Linked DNA regions of Homo sapiens: region 2 is linked to region 1. Evidence: fine-mapped expression QTL. A gene starts in region 1. The other region holds a variant in brackets. All regions are shown on one strand. Distances are between the middles of the regions.

Region 1 (8,335 bases):
TAATCACTTGCTGAATTGAATTTATGTAATTACATTAGTTTTGGGAATAAACATAAAAAGGTGTATGAGTGCATGTGTGTGTGTGTGTCTTTGTTAACAAAAAGGTATATATCTTAAAATTCCTAGCAAATTATTTTAATAATATACACTTGGCAACTGGACAACTGTCATATAGAGATTGCATGCTCCATTACAATCTGTTATATTTACATTGGCTATTCTGAAACTAGCAATTTAGTGTGTCTTCTTCCTGATATTCATATTTGAAATAGAAATTCTTGGTCCCATGAGCAAAACTACTTGAAAATTCTGCAATTTCATGTTGCTTAAATGTGTCTGGGGAATCTCTAAAGTTGAATAAATGCCTTAGGAAATCCACCTACAATATCAGGATATAGGCGTCTAGAAGCAGCAAATCAGTTCTTAGGAAACAGAGAAAAGTGACAGAGCCCTCTGTACTTCGGAATTAGGACTGGAAACAATGTTTTGAAGGAACTAAAGGGAGACAGGTGCAGACCAAATGAATTAAGGACACCAGGGAGCCACAGGAGACCAGTAAGGAAATGAGAGGGAAGAATGCTAGAGAAAATACAGCATAAAGAGGAGGTGGTAGAGAATTTCTAAAAAAAAATGATTACAGGGACTGCTGAATTGCCAGGAGAGAAACAAACTCGGCCTCCTTTCATGAAATCCCTAAGTATCAACTCTCCCTTTCTGCCAGTATCTTCAAGAAGAGTAACAAAGGAACAGCAAGAATGAGAGTGAGATAATCATGCTTTTAAATTCATATTCCATTTCCTTGGTCATTAGGGTTTGTCCATGTCCCATTTGGCCAGAATTCCCTTTTTGTTATGGGGAGTTCTTTTCTTAATCGCTGGTTACGGAAACACCCAGAGTATTTCCAGTCATTGGAGAAGTGACTGGCCAGATGTTTCTTTTTTTTCTCCTTCCAGAACTCTTTGGTAAGGATTGAGGAGGTATCCTGAAAGTCTTCCTTCCACAGTTCAGGGTTTGGGCAGTTCATAATGTGGAATCTTTATTTAGGATACTTAAATCTATATATGTTTATACAAATAACTTGTTTTTGTTTTGTAGGAGGGTAGTGGGTTTTAGGAAGGTTTCGTTTACATATTTGTGGCAAGACACAGGTTTTATACCCATCCTTTCACTACTGCTTTCTCAACAGCCCAACAGAGAGCCGGTGATAGAAGCAGTTGCTATGCCCCTACAGAGCCTGGTTGTCATCTTTTGTTTCTTTGTTGGCAGGGCGGTGGGGCGGGACGGGAGTGGGAGGGTGTTGAGCCGCAGGGATCCAAATGATTCCTGCCTGAAGCTGAAGACCTTGTTGGGAAGGGACGATGGGAATAAACGTGCTCTTGATTCCCTGATTCTTCCCCCTAGAGTGTTCAGCTCTTTGTATTTCCTCCCCTTGGTGGTGTGATGGTCTTACAATGCTCCCTCTTTGCAAATACCTATATCAAAAGCTGGGAAAATGGGAACACACGGTTCAGAGAACTCCCCCTGGCGTCACTCTGTACTACCTCTCTTTCTGAAACTGAATCTGGTCCCCCTGCTCAGGAGCACAGAGACCAGCCCGGAAGCCGACCTTGGGCAGCTGCCGCCACCCAGGGAAGGGAACAGTTGGAAGCTTTGGTGTTCGCCCACCGCGCCAAGAGGAACTCTTCCCGGTAACTAGCACCAGCCACGACTCCAAGCCTGCCTTATTGTAACCTCTAGCGGGTTCCCAACTCGGCAATAGCTTCTCGCTCTCCTGTCCCTGTTCTTGCGGAGGAAAATTTAAAACGTGCGTGCACATATACGCATTCACACACGCCCTTCTTTCTTTACTTAAAAAAAAAAAAATCAGTAAACGTCCTTCGCCCAAAGAATGTTCGACTCTTCACGCTCTCTTTTCTTTACCTAGAGGTCAGCAGTCCCTTGGGAGCACACGCGGTGCTCCCTAGCTGCTCTGCGCGCCCCCTACCTGCCTACGGCTGGGGTGGCACCGCGGGGCAGGAGGCCTGGGAATCCGCTAGACTCCTATTTCTCCAGTTTGTGCAGCTCCCCTGGCTCGGCACTTGGTATCTCCCACGGTCTTGCTCTCTGTGGGAAGCCGGAAAGAAGACTGCTGTGGGCGTCGCCGCCACCCCTCCCGGAACCAGAGCCTGCTCTAGCGTGCATCCAAGCCTCCTACTTCAGACTCACATCTGGCCCAGTCGGACAGATGTTAGCCGCTGGAGAGTGCCTCCATGCGAAGCGCCCCAAGTCCCGAGCATGCCCAGTCGGACTACTAAGGCTTCTGACGCGAGTTTCTGGGCGTGCAGATTCCGCTTCTCCGCTTTTTCGAGGAAGCTGAGGAGGGTTGGGAGGGAGGGAGGGATCCAGGGCTTGGGGCAGCGCGCTGGGTTCGCCCGAGTACGTGCCCTGGTGCCAGGCTGGGTGAGGGGCGGAGCCGTTTAGGGAGCCCAGGAACCTGGGCGGCCAGGCAGGGCAGGATCCCTTAGCGCTCCCCTCTTCCCCCAACCACCTTCAGGTGGACGTCGTTACTGCTGATCTGATGCGCCGCCAGTAGGCTGCATGTGGCCGGCCGGCCTTGGCGCTCTGGGGTCACACTGTCAGCAGGACGCAGTCGGCGGTGCACTCTCACCGACAGACGCACGAGAGCTTGTGGGTCGCTTATGCACCGCATTCACGGGCTTTTGGCTTTTCTGGAAGGCGGGGGAGAGGAGAATAAGAAAAGGAAACCAAACAATTTCTCTCCCCCCGCCCTTTTTTTTTTTTTTTTGCCAAAGTTATACTGGCAAAAGACTTCGCATTCTAAGTCAGTCCTGAGGCTTTGAACATAGAAGCAGTGATTGTGCTCCTGTGTGTGCGCTCGTGTGCGCGCGCGTGTGTGTGCACGCGATGTTTGTGTATGTCATGACTAGGTAACACTGTCCCAGGCTGATCCTGGGGTTGACAAATACTCATCCGAACCCCCCACCCCACCCCTCACCCTCAGGAGAAAGTAATTAAAAAAAAAAAAAAAAAAAAAACATCGAGTGAGTCACCTGGCCAGGCATCTATCCACTGTAGTAGGAAATCTAAATTTTGTTGATCCATATTTCCTTCCTCTGCTTCCATATCCAGCTTTCTCCTTCCCCTCTCCACCCTATAACACCCTGATCTTTCTCATTGCGACTTCCCTTCCTCTGCCCGATACTTGCTCCTTAAGCCCTTCTCCTCTTTCTCCTCCTCCTCCTCTCCCTCTCCTCCTCCCCCCACCTCCCTCCACCTCCCATCTCAGCTGCGGCTAAAACCTGGAGTCTTGGGGAAAAGGAGAAAAAAAAAAAAACCTCGGCTGTGAAGCTGTCAAACCGGGCATGCTCAGTAGACAGGGCAGGTTTTTTGGTCTCGAGTAGCGGAGAAACATTTTTTGCACCACCGCGACCAGCCTTAGAGCGCGGCGGCGGCGGCCACGGCAACATCAGCCCAGCCATCAGCCGAGCAGACGCCCAGCACCCGGGAGCGCGGCGAGCTTCGGCTCAGCCCGGAGTTCACCTCCGAGTGCCCCGGGGGCTGAGCTCACCCCTTCTGCTCTCTCACACACGAACACTCTCTTTCACTCACACACACACACGTATTCACACTCTCTCGCACACACATAGGACCCTGGGCGCAAGCACCCTTCTGGCAGCGGTCGTCCGCTGGTGCAATAGTAGCTAGGTTCGGTTCCTGCCTCCGGCGGCCGCCGGTTTAGAGCACCGCTGCCAGCAGCCGGAGGAGAGCAATGCGGGGGCCCGAGCGGCAGCTCGAACAGTAATGTGGATTTACAGTCGTTTCCCGCAGGAGTCGGCCGAGACGCCCTAAGTCCCGGGCACTGGCAGCGCCCGGCGGAGCCGAGCACCTGGCGAGGGGGCGGGGGAACAGCACCTGGGGACGCCGCCGAAACTTGCGCTTGGAATAGGTAGGTGCGTTTCTCCTGGCTCCCACCCCATTCCTTCTCGCTCCCGCCCGCCACCCCCAACCTTCTACCCCAAGGACTACAGGCGAACTTCGCCCCGAGGCTGCAGGCGGCGGATGGCGGCTCCTGGCTGTTAGCGGCCGGTTGAGTCCGCTCTGGGACTCCTGCCCGAGGTGGCAGAGCCTCCGCATCCTTCTTCTCCCGGTCTCCGCCGGCCATGGGGCTCTGGACCATCTGGGGCAGAAGGGAGGTCGGCCTTGTTCGCAGTTCAAGCTTCCAGCGGGCCCTGGGGACGCTGCCCTTCGAGGGCTCGCTGGGCTTCCCAGGCGGCACTTTTACCAACCAACTCCTTCAGTTCTGAGAGGGAGCCTCCTCGCCTCGGCTCTCGCGCAGAGCCCAGTCACTCTAACAAGTGGACCTGGGTGCTTGGGGTGAGGATGGGAGGCTCGGTCTAAAAAGAAAGAAAGGGGCGCTTCTCTGGCATCCCTCCCACCCTGGAGCGTTCGCCTGGGGCTCTGCCACTGGGGTCCAGGTCCTGCTGTCTCCGCAGAGAATATGCCCAAGGGCTAGGACGCACTTTAGTACCTGTTTGCTTCTGAATTTCTATTTGAGCCTCACTCAGGGAGCCCGGGTTCCCGGGGGAACTGCAGGACCTCCTAACCTACGCCGCCGTCGAGGGCCCCACCCGATGCGTCCTCCCTATACCTTTGTCAATCTTTGTCAAAAGAGATAGTCATTACAACCCAGGCGGTGCTCCAGGAGCCGTCGGTGTTGACTTTAACCATGCGCTCCAATGTGCGGGTTTGTGTGTTTCCGCATTTCATCCAGAGACTTGGTCCCCGAGATTCAGCAACGGCCAGCATATCTGCGAGCGCCAAGCACCCGCTAGGCAGGCTTGGGGAAATGTAACCTCACTTTCTTCCACTCCATAACAGGAGGATTGCCAATTTAGTTTCAGGATGCTTTGCCTAGAGGCGGAGAAGGGGAGATTGTTAGCGCTACTTGGTGAGTGGATGTGTTTGCAGTCAGGAGTGTATTTAAACATTTCAGTGAACCCGATGCAGTCAGTTGTTTACAATTGCGGAGACAGAGGATCTCACTCCACTAGTAGATGTTTCCACGTCTGTGTCGCCACTGGGAGAGTAGGGGCGGGGGCGGGGGCTGGTTTGCAGCTCGTACTCGCCGTCGGCAGCTTCGGGTTGAGCAGATCTGCATCACTGCTACTGGCGATATGCTAATAGGGGTAGAAAAGCTCTACATCTCCAATATGAAGCAATTGGTCAGTAAACGTCCTGAACTTAACCGTTGTTTTCCTGGGATACCAACCTGGAGGTGTTTTTGAGGTGGCCCAAAGAAATACAAAGAGAAGTTCTCAGTGCTACAGAAAGGAAATTAGTAGCCATTTGGTTTTAAAGACCAAAAGGAAACGAAACATCCCAGTGCACTCTAATAGGTACTGTTAGATTAGCGTTTAATTGATCGCGTTTGTGACGAGTAAGTGTCGCAGACAGCTTCCTTGAATTTTAGACTCTTGTTCTATGATTATAATTAACAAGCCAGGTAACAATGTACTGTGAGAATCAATTGCTACTCTTAACGTGTTTGAGGAGAACATGGCAAATGTCTGCTCTATTATATTTTTTGGCTGAAATAGCCCAGTTCATCTTCCTAGTCCGAAGTCTTCTGATCTGGAGCAGTAGATACTCCAGTGTTACCAAGAAAGGGAAGAGTCTAAGAGGGAAAGGCTTAAAAAACAAAATTAATGAAAAGGCGATCCACACCTTTAACTTCTGCTCCATGATTACCCAGCATCTGCTTGCTTGCTCACCCCCGCTCCTTGCTCTTCATATCTGCAACGTGGGGAAAAATGAATTTTCATAAGGCATAGTAAGACCCTCAAAGTACATAACTGGAGAAACAGAATCCCAATTTTGCCATTTTAGTTCAAGTTCATAACACTATTTTGTGATGCATTAAATAATTTACTATGGCAAAGTTGGGGTTTTTAAGAGTAATTAAAAGCTTTCAGGTATGACAAAATAATGTTGAAAACTTTTCATGATTAAAGAAAGTCGAAATATGCATTTAAAAAGGGATCAGGTAATTCCTAAAATAAATCCATGCTCTAAATATTATTTAAAAGTTTTCAGGTTGTTCCCCAGAATGTTTCTGAAAAACAGGTGTTTCTATAAAACAACTCTATGAAGAAATGTTAACATTTTCATAATAAAACTAGTAGAGTCCAGTCCTGAGAACAATGTCAGCTATACATAGCAGAAAAAAACCCCACAAATATTTTTGCATACATGAAGTAGTATTTTCCATTAGGTTTAGGTTCCAATTATGAATTAGGGACAGTCATGTCATTTGACAAAATATACAGTGAGGCTAAAGGAAAGAATGCTTTGTAGAATCATTGTGCTGTAAAGGTGATTAAGATTTCAAATATTCAAACGTTTAGGTGTATTAAAATAAAATTGTATTATACATAACTATCATCACATTCAAAGGCCTAATTCAGTCTGAATACCCTAGAATTCTCAGTGTTTCAATTCAGCTATTATATGTGTAAATAACACCGACATAATCATAGTTTCCCTCATAGTCATTGATCCTTTCTGATACCTTTACCAGAAAGATTCTTGCTGAAGCAGAACAGTCTAGCATTCAAGTTTATTCTATACAATATTACTTTAAATTGTCAAACTGCAAAACATTCCTGATATGTTGTTTCTGAAAACAGAAAACTTAGTGGAAATTTATTTTCTGTGACAGCCTTAAAAACTTGGAAGTAGTAAGAAATTTTAGTGTTAATTAATAAAACAAACATTTTTCATATTCTATGTTAGAGATAGACATTTGGAGTCCATATAATTTTTGCTTGAAGCTTGCTTTTCCTAAGTCATTCAGTTTCAGATTTAAGTAAAGCTATCAAGTAGTTGGTATAGATTATGGTTAATAAATTCCCTAAAGTTTCCCAAAACAAGTTAATTATTATTATTTATGCATTTATTTATTTACTTACTTATAAATGACCAGAGGTCAAAAGAAGACCAGTACTTTGAATAACTGAGTCAGTGATTAATTTTTTTGATGAAAACAAATTTTCTTATAGTACTCATATTTGTTCTCTCTCTCTCTCTCTCTCTCTCACACACACACACACACACACACACGGAAGCAATTGCTTGTGAATGCCTTGAATCAGATATAAAACATGTACAATAGCTTTATTAAAATTATATATATTTGTTAAATTGCTGTGGATTTTAACCACAAAATTAATAATCCATGCGTACTTAAAAAGCTTCCCATCACTTAACATTTAGAAGAAAGGTTTAAACTGGATTCCTAGTATGACTACAGGCAGATGAAAAATATTGTAAGGTACAGAATTTAGCAATTGTGACCAACAGCATATACCCACGACTGGAAGTGTAACTGCTGATTATAAAAATTAAAAGGAATCAAATTTCAGAAATGCTCACATATACCACAATTTCTTTAAATCTTCTACAGCTTCTGAGTGTTAGATTAAATCACTACTTTGAATGGAGATTGCTATTATTTTTCCTTCCCCTAAAAGGTAAAAATATTCTGAATCCTGGCTTAATATATTATTTTTATTCCTTTCTGTTTTCCATTGATTTTTTTTAGAACAGAGGAAAGTAAATATCAAATATAACCAGCTAGAACCATGCTTAGTTTGAGCAGGTGAATGCTATAAAAGGCTTCACACAGCTTTTAATTATTCTTAACAACCTTGATGACCAACCATAGGTGTCTGTTCAGTATTCGGTGCTCTGTTATGGCAATTTATATAATGTATAGAGATTTTGTAGTTTGCTAGACGTGCTGTGGTACAATTTAGCAAGACCAGCAAAATTGCTTACATTTGGAACCCATGAAAAATAGGGCTGAGGAAATTGGAATATGATGGCATAGACTGAAAATTATTATATAACAATATTTATATCAATTGCAATGCTAACATTTCTGTATAGAAATTAAGCTAATTTAAATTTGAAAAGTAAATATTTTTACAGGTGACATGGATCCCTAATATTTTAAAATAGTAACTTAGAGTCTAATAAATGAAGTCTATTAGATTTTTATGTAACTTCAGGACCCATTTCAAGGCCTGGAAGTATAATCTTGGATAATTTACAACTTAAAAAATTATTCTAAATTGTACTTCCTGTCCGAGCCTCCACTTTAGGTAAACAATAGCATATGGTGAAACATGCATATATGCCAACTAACCACTACCTCTTGGATGATGTTTTTAATGTGATGTAATGATTCTGAAATATTGGATTCTCCACCCCCGCTCTATTCTAACTGTAAGAGTGGAGAAGCTAATTGGAAAATGGACACATAAAAACATGTTAA
Region 2 (8,335 bases), 84 kb before region 1:
TGAAATGAATATAACCATAATTTATATCAAGTATCTGAGTACCAAATTTAATTTTATACTTATTTTCAAAGTTTGCCCACTGTAAATATTTCTACTTTATTATTAAATTGTACCATGCTAAAAAGTTAGGTTTTCAAAGGAAATTAATTCCTCAGAGTAAGTTAACTGAGCCAGTTGATTTGTGGCTATGTGTACAAAGGCAAATGAAATAGAAAGTTGAGTAATTGCTCTGTCAATTTAGTCAATATTGACAGCCACTCTGGAGCACACAGTTTACTTTTTACTTAAATAGTACAGATAATTGTCTCAAATCTAAAAAGAAAGAATGACCCTGCATTTGTTCCCCATATGACATAAAACTGGTTACTGTGAGATGGAAAATTAAACCATATAAAAAGGTACTAGTATGAGGGTACTAATTCCTTAGGCATCAGAAGTACTTACTTATAAAGTTCTTTTCCCTTTAAGATAGCTACATGGTATGACCCTTAGGGAAAACGCCTCTGAAGACTCTATAGTTTTCAAGGAAAGGCACCAAAAAATTGAAATACATTTCCACCCTAAACACATTACTGACAATTCCACATCAACAAACAAGCTTAATCCTTCTTTAGACATATTTGTCTTGCTAGTTAAAAAAAAATTACTAGAACCATGACATTCCCAGTTATTTTGGAATAACTCTAAAATAAGCAGAGACCTTTAAATTCCAAATACTGAATTTTTAAATATGAGCAAAAGCACTTGAAAATAAACATTTATATTTTCATTTATAATTCTTCCAAATTCTAATTATATTTTCTGCATTCTTATCTGCATATGATTTTTACTTAAAACCTAGATGATGGGTTGATAGGGTGCAGCAAATCACCATGCATATGTATACCTATGTAACAAACCGGCACATTCCGCACATGTATCCCAGTACTTAAAGTTAAAAAAAAAAAAAAATCTGAAATTATTAAAAGATGTATATTTTTGCTTATTTTAAATTCATTTTTATTAATTGATAGTATCACCATTCATTAAAATTATATAAATTGATTTAAATATTAAAGCTAAGCCTATGTAAATTAAATGCCATTTGTTAGTAAAAATTGAATTTTGCTAAGAGTTTCAGGTTGATTTAGTTGCAATTGAGCCCTAAATTTAGTGCTCATCTTCTTGGACTCAAACATAAATTGAAAACATTATGGGATTTTATAGTTCTTATTGTCTAATAATAGAAACCAAAAATATTTGTCTACAGAGACAAATGTTACCAGCATTTAATTATTGTATGAATGCTTTGAGGAGCATGGCATAGACTTTGAGAAATATGACAGGCATCGACCCTCATTTTGGTTTTGTCTTGCTCCGTTTTGTACTGCTATAACATAATTCCACATCCTGAGTAATTTATAAACATTATAAGTTTATACCAGGCATGGTGACTCATGCCTGTAAATTCCAGCACTTTAGAAGGCCAAGGCAAGGGGATCACTTAAAACCAGGAGTTTGAGAGACCAGCCTGAGAAGCAAAGCAAGACCCCATCTCTACAAAAAAATAACAAATAAAATAAATTATCCAGGCACGGTGGTGTGTGCCCATAGTCTCAGTTACTCAGGAGGATGAGATGGAAGGATTGTTTGAGCCCAGGAATTCAAAGCTGCAGTGAGCTATGATCATGCCACTGCACTCCAGCCTGGGCAACAGTGAGGCTGTCTTTAAAAAAAGATAATGGAAAGAAGTTTATTTGGCTCATGGTTCCGGAGACTAGGAAGTCCAAGAGTATGACACTGACATCTGGTGAAGGCCTTCATCCTTCATCATCTCATGGCAGAAGGTGGGAGGGTAAGAGTGAAAGAGTAAGAGAGGGCCAACCTCATTTTCATAACTGCCCACTCACAATAACAAACCCACTCCCTCATGACCTAATTACCTCTTGAATGTCCTACCTCCTAAAACTACTGCACTGGGGATTGAGTTTCCAACACATCAACATTGGGAGACACAGTCAGACCATAGCATTTTACCTCTGGCCCCTAAAGTGCATATCTTTCTCATATGAAAACGCATTAGCTCCACCCCAATAGCCCCAGAGCCTTTACTCATTCCAGCATCAACTCAAAAGTCCAAAGTCCAGAGTCTCATCTAAATCAAATATGCATGAACACAAGGTATGATTCACACTGAGGCACATTTCTCTCCAGCTGTGACCCTATGAAATCAAAACAAATCATCTGCTTCTAATACACAATGGTGGGACTGTCATAGGCTAGACATTCCCATTCCAAAAGGGAGAAATAAGCAGGAAGAAAAGGGTAACCAGTCCCAGGTAAGTCCAAAACTCAATAGAGAAAACAACGTTAGGTCTTAAAGCAGGAGAATAACTTCATTTTACTCCATGTTCAGCACCCTGGGCACACTGGGGTGGAGATCGGGCCCCCAAGGCTTCTGGCAGCCCTGCCCCAACAGCTTTACTGGGCTCAGTCCATGCTTCAGATCCCTTGGGTTGGAGTTACATGCCTGCAGCTCTCAGGCTGGTATTGCACTCCGGTAACTCTATAGCTCTGGGGTATTGATGGCGGACTTACTCCAACAGCTCTACTAGGCATTACTCTAATAGGGACTCTCTGTAGTGGCCTCATTTTCAGAGCTCTACTAGGCACTGCCTTAGTGGGGGCTCTCTATAGTGGCTCTGCCCCTGTGACAAGTTTCTTCCTGAACCCGCATGCTGCCCAATACATCTTTTGAAATCTAGGTGAAGGTCACCATGGCCTCATAGCTCATGTATTCTGTGTCTGCAGAGTCAGCACCACATGACCACTGCCAAGGCTCACACTGTTATGGGATCCTTGGGGTGTTGCTTTTCCAGCTGGAAACCTCTGTGGCCAGTGGTGCCTTTGCCTGAGTTTTGCTCTGGCATGTGGGGCTCATTCCTCCCACTCAGCCTGCCAGGTTACTCTCGGTTCATGATACCGGCCTGGATCCCTCACCTGCCAAGGGTGAGCAAAGCATCAAGGAGTGTGTGAGTGAGTGAGCGTAGGGTCCAGCCACTTCACACAGCAAGGCACGCCAGTTGCAGTGGGGTGGGAAGCTTCAGGGGCTGGCACAGGCACCAGCTCCCTGCAAGGCTACAGCTGGATCAGGTGTACCGCAAGTAGCTTCCATAGCTGGCACCAAGGAACACAGTGGCACCCAGAAGCTTGGAGATGCCAGGAACCACAGATCCCCAAAGAGGGTATCACAGCCCTAGCTCAGGAAGCTCCTAGGTCTGGGCTTCCTGAAGGGCCGCAGCTCTTCTCTCCTTCTGTCTTCTCTCCTTCTTGTCACCCTCAACGTGGTGAGCAAGGGGTGCATTTCAGCCCTGTTTGTGTTACGGCTGCTTCAGCTCTGCTATTCAGCAGGTCCCGAGTTCTTGTCCTGCATCCAGGAAAAATGAGATATGCAGACAAGTGGAGGGTGAGCAAGGTGAAGA[G/T]GTGCTTTATTGAGTGACAAAACAGCTCAGAGCTGACCTGCAATAGGTACCTCCTCTCCCCAGGCAGGTCATCCTGAAGAGTGTTCAGCTCTCAGCAGAGAGGGGAACCACAGTCGGTAGCTCCTCTGCACAGGCAGGTCATCCAGGCGTTTGTTCAGCTCTCAGCAGAGAGGAGAACCACAGTCGGTAGCTCCTCTGCATAGGCAGGTCATCGAGATGTTTGTTCAGCTCTCAGCAGAGAGGAAACCCACAGCAGGTAGCTCCTCTCCACAGGCAGGTTGTCTCATCAACTGCTCAGCTCCCAGCAGAGAGGAGACTCACATTGGGTAGCTCCTCTCCACAGGCAGGTGGTCCTGTCATCTGCCTGAGTCCGCCTGAGTCCAGGGTTTTTATGGACTTCAAAGAGGAAGAAGTATGTGCTGATTGGTCCATGAGTGGCCATGGGCTGGCCAGAAAAAGCACCATAAGTTCTCACTCCAGTCCTCAGAACTGGCAGCCTGGCCCTCAGGCATTAGGCCGTCCCAGGCCTGAAGGTGGAGTTTCACCAGGGACCCCTTTCTGCCTAGGAGCCTGCCTCCTGCCACCATTAACCTGCTGTCCATGGTGTGCACAGCGCCCAGGCTGTTTGTGCCAAGGGATGCCCGAAGTCCTGCCCAGAGACACCCTTACCACCCCCACCATCCTCCCAACTGTGCTCATTGGCACCTAAAGTCCAGAGGGGGCCAAGGCAGCAAGGGGCTGGTATGTCAGCACTGCCCCAAGTGTGCACACACTCAGCTGGGTGGTGACAGCACCCAGGCTCAGCCACAACTTTGCTCTGAAATCAAAGTGGGTTCCATGAGTGAAGAGAGGCCATGCAGCAGGAGCAGGCACTTCTGAGCCTGCAGGGGCAGGGGGGCTTCATGGGCCCCCAAGAGTGCAGAGATGCCTGGGTGCACAGCTGCTGCTGCTGTGTGGCTGCAGCTGCACCAGGGATGGTGAAGCTCCTTCTTCTCCAACTTGGAAGGGGGCTGGGCTTCTCCCTGTTCCTAGCTCCCGCCAGCTCCATGGAGTGTGCAGTCCAAGTTGTGCCTCCCCCACTGTAGCCAGCATCATGGCAGTGGCCACTCCAGATAGGCTGCCACCGCCATCAACATCACTTTCACCCTCCAGAGCAACAACATGAGGTTCACCTGGGCCTGCCTGAGCCACAGGTGAGGTGACCAAGGAGCAGTGTGCCAGAATGTGGGGAGCAGAATCATGAGGTGGCCATAAGCAGCGCATGCTGAAGTCCCATGGGCCCCTTTCTGGATACGTTGCCCTGACTCACAGCCCTGTTCTGAAACTATAATGGGAGGAGCAGCCTACTCAAAGATCTCTGAAATGCCTTCAGGGTCGTTCTATCATTGTCTTGATAAATAGCACTTGGCTCTCTTCTATCTTTAGTAGTCTCTTTAGCAAAGTGTTGCTTGGCCACACCCTTGGTTTGTTCTTCTAAATGTGCCTTTTCACTTCTTATATGGCCAGGCTGATAATTTTCTAAATCTTTTCATTTTAATTCTCTTTTCATTATAAATTTCATCTTTAAGTAATATTTCTCTATTCATAGCTTCCTATATGTGGTTAAAATGGCCACATATCTTTTTAAATATTTTGCTTAAAAATTTATTCTGCCAGATATTCTAGTCCATTACTCTTAAATTCCACCTTTTATAAAGCCCTTGGGCAAGCCCTGGTAAGAAGGATGGCCTTTCCTCCAGTTTCCAATACCTCGTTCCCCATTTCCACCTGATACCTCATCAGAATTATCATTACTGTTCATATTTCTACCAGTATTCTGATAACAATGACTTAAGTAATCTCTAAGAGATTGCACTCTTTCCTACAGTGCTCCCTCTTCTGAGCTCTCACCAGAATTGCCCTTAGCACTCCATTCACAGCAACCTATGCGTTTTCTAGCCTGTTCCACCAAATTCTTCCAGCCTCTGTTCATGACCCAGTTCCAAAGCTGCTTCCACATTTACAGGTATTTATTCTAACAAAAGCCTTACTTCTCAATACCAGTTTTTGTCTTGGTTCATTTTGTGCTGCTATAAGAGAATACCACAGACTGATACAAGCAATAAAAGCTCATTCATGATTCTGGAGGCTGGGAAGTATGAGAACATGGTGCCAGAATTTAGTGAAGACCTTCTTGCTGAATCATCCTATCACAGAAGGTGGAAGGGCAAGAAAGGTTGAGAGCAAGAGTAGGCCAAATGTACTTTTAAAATAGCCCACTTAATAACTAGCAACCCCCTGAATAACTAACCCACACTTGCAATAATGGCAGTATAATTTGCAACAATAAGCACCTATTTTGTCTCCGATAAATTTGATGGAAATATTCTGCTTTGTCTATTAGAAGCAAATGTCAGATATGAAAATGATATGTCTCCAGACTTCCACTTTCCTGTCTGACATGTAAGGAACTTGGAAGTCTTCACTCCATTTTAACAAGTAAAAAGTTAAACAGGCTGTGCGCAGGGGCTCAGGCCTGTAATCCCAGCAGTTTGAGAGGCCAAGGCGGGCAGATTACTTGAGGTCAGGAGTTCGAGACCAGCCTGGCCGACATGGTGAAACCCCATCTCTACTGAAAGTACAAAAATTAGCTGGGCATGGTGGCAGGCACCTGTAGTCTCAGTTACTCAGGAGGCTGAGGCAGGGGAATTGCTTGAACTGAGTAGGCAGAGGTTTCAGTGAGCCAAGATCGCGGCACTGCACTCCAGCCTGGGTGGCAGCGAGACTCAGTTTCAAATTAAAAAAAAAAAAGTTAAAGTTAAATACACTGAGAAATTAATAACTCTTCTTAAATCTGTCAAAGAACTGTTACCTCAAAAATTGGAGACACCAACAAGTAGATACCAAGAATCACAACTTACTGAGAAGAAACCCAGCAGCAGAAACTTCTGCAGGGTAGAAAACTCCAAACAATAATCGAAAACATTGCTGGAGGCTCAGGTAAACAAGCCTAAGAAATAAAATCTTCATCAGAATCCAGTCATAAGGGACACTCACACTTTGGTTAGTTTCACCTCCACGGGCTCTACTAGATCTTCACAGTGTTTATCAAAGGAAAACCCCTTCCTGCATCCAGCAGGTAGAGGGAAATACATTAGATTCTTCTTAATAAAGCCTGCCCTCAGGAGAAATTATTTAACCAGAGGCTAGCCTGCTTGAGTTTTACCAGACCCTAACAAACTATGGGAAACTACAAAAGAGAGAGCATACACATAATGGGAATATCAGAAAAAGAGAAAGGAACAGAAGAAATATCTGAAGCAATGACTGAGAATTTCTCCCAAATTAATGTCAGACATCAAACCATAGATGCTGGAAGCTCAGAGAACAGAAAGCAGGATAAATTACCAAAAATCACTATACCAAGGCAGATAATATCAAATTTCAAAAGTACAGAAGATAATGAAAAAAATCTTGAAAGGAGTCAGAGGGAAAAACACTTTACAGAGAAGCAAATACAAGAATTATACCTGACTTCTTTTTAGAAAGTATGTGATATGGTTTGGTTCTGTGGCCCCACCCAAGTCTCACCTTGGATTGTAATCCCCATAATCCCCACATGTCAAGGGCAGGATCGAGTGGAGGTAATTGGATCATGGATGTGGTTTTCCCCGTGCTGTTCTCATAATAATGAGTTCTCAAAAGATCTGATGGTTTTATAACTGCACTCACTCTGTCTTGCTGCCCTGTGTAGAAGGTGCCTGCTTCTCCTTTGCCTTTTGCCATGATTGTAAGTTTCCTGAAGCCTCCGCAGCAACGCCAAACTGTGAGTCAATTAAACCTCTCTTCTTTATAAATTGTTGAGTCTCACGTATTTCTTCATAGCAGTGTGACAACAGACTAATACAGTAAATTGGTACTGGAGGTGGTACCAATTTTACGTGCTGTAAAAATACCTTAAAATGTAGAAGCGAATTTGGAACTGGATAACAGGCAGAGGTTGGAACAGTTTGGAAGGTCCGGAAGAAGACAGGAAGATGTGGGAAAGTTTGGAACTTCCTAGACACTTGTTGAATGGCTTTGACCAAAATGCTTATAGTGATATTGACAATGAAGTCCAGGCTAAGGTCGTCTCTGATGGAGAGGAGGAACTTGTTGGGAACTGGAATAAAGGTGACTCTTGCTGTGCTTTAGCAAAGAAACTGATGGCATTTTGTCCCTGCCCTATAGATCTGTGGAACTTTGAACTTGAGAGAGATGATTTAGGGTATCTGGCGGAAGAAATTTGTAAGCAGCAAAGCATTCAAGACATGGCTTGGGTGCTCTTAAAAGTATTTAGTTTTATGCATTCACAAAGACATTGTTTGGAATTGGAACTTAATGTTTTAAAGGGAAGCAGAGCATAAAAATTTGGAAAATTTGCAGCCTGATGATGTGATAGAAAAGTAAAACCCATTTACTGAGGAGAAATTCAAGCCAGCTTCAGATATCTGCGTAAGTAATGAGAGCCAAATGTTAATCTCTAAGATAATGGGGAAAATGTCTCCAGGGCATGTCAGAGGTCTTCATGGCAGCCCCTCCCATCACAGGTCCTGAGGCCTAGGATGAAAAAATGATTTCATAGGCCCGTTCCAGAGCCTTGCTACTTTGTGCAGTCTCAACACTTGGTGTCCTGCATCCCAGCTTTGGCTAAAGGGGGCTAAAATGCAGCTCAAGCCATTGCTTCAGAGCATGCAAGGCCCAAGCCTTGGTGACTTACATAAGCGGTTGGGCCTGCGGGTGCACAGAAGTCAAGAATTGAGGTTTGGGAACCTCTGCTTAGATTTCAGAGGACTTGACTTATCTTGGATGAGACTTTGGACTGTGGACTTTTGAGTTAATGCTGAAATAATTAA

Evidence for each region. PIP is the estimated chance that this variant, and not a neighbour inherited with it, causes the effect.
Region 2: its variant is fine-mapped to the expression of TENM1 in whole blood (TOPMed, PIP above 0.99).

The regions. Positions count from the first base shown.
Region 1 is chrX:125,199,415-125,207,749 of GRCh38, reverse strand. It overlaps TENM1 (teneurin transmembrane protein 1), which reads left to right and starts at 3,438. Exons shown (of 35, transcript NM_001163278.2): 1 at 3,438-3,946. LOC124905211 (a long non-coding RNA gene) reads right to left here and starts at 3,290. Exons shown (of 2, transcript XR_007068314.1): 1 at 3,051-3,290; 2 at 1-2,708.
Region 2 is chrX:125,283,222-125,291,556 of GRCh38, reverse strand. No RefSeq gene overlaps it. Among named protein-coding and RNA genes, the nearest start is that of TEX13C, 32 kb to the left of the region's middle. The variant G/T (reference allele first, on the strand shown) is at 3,462.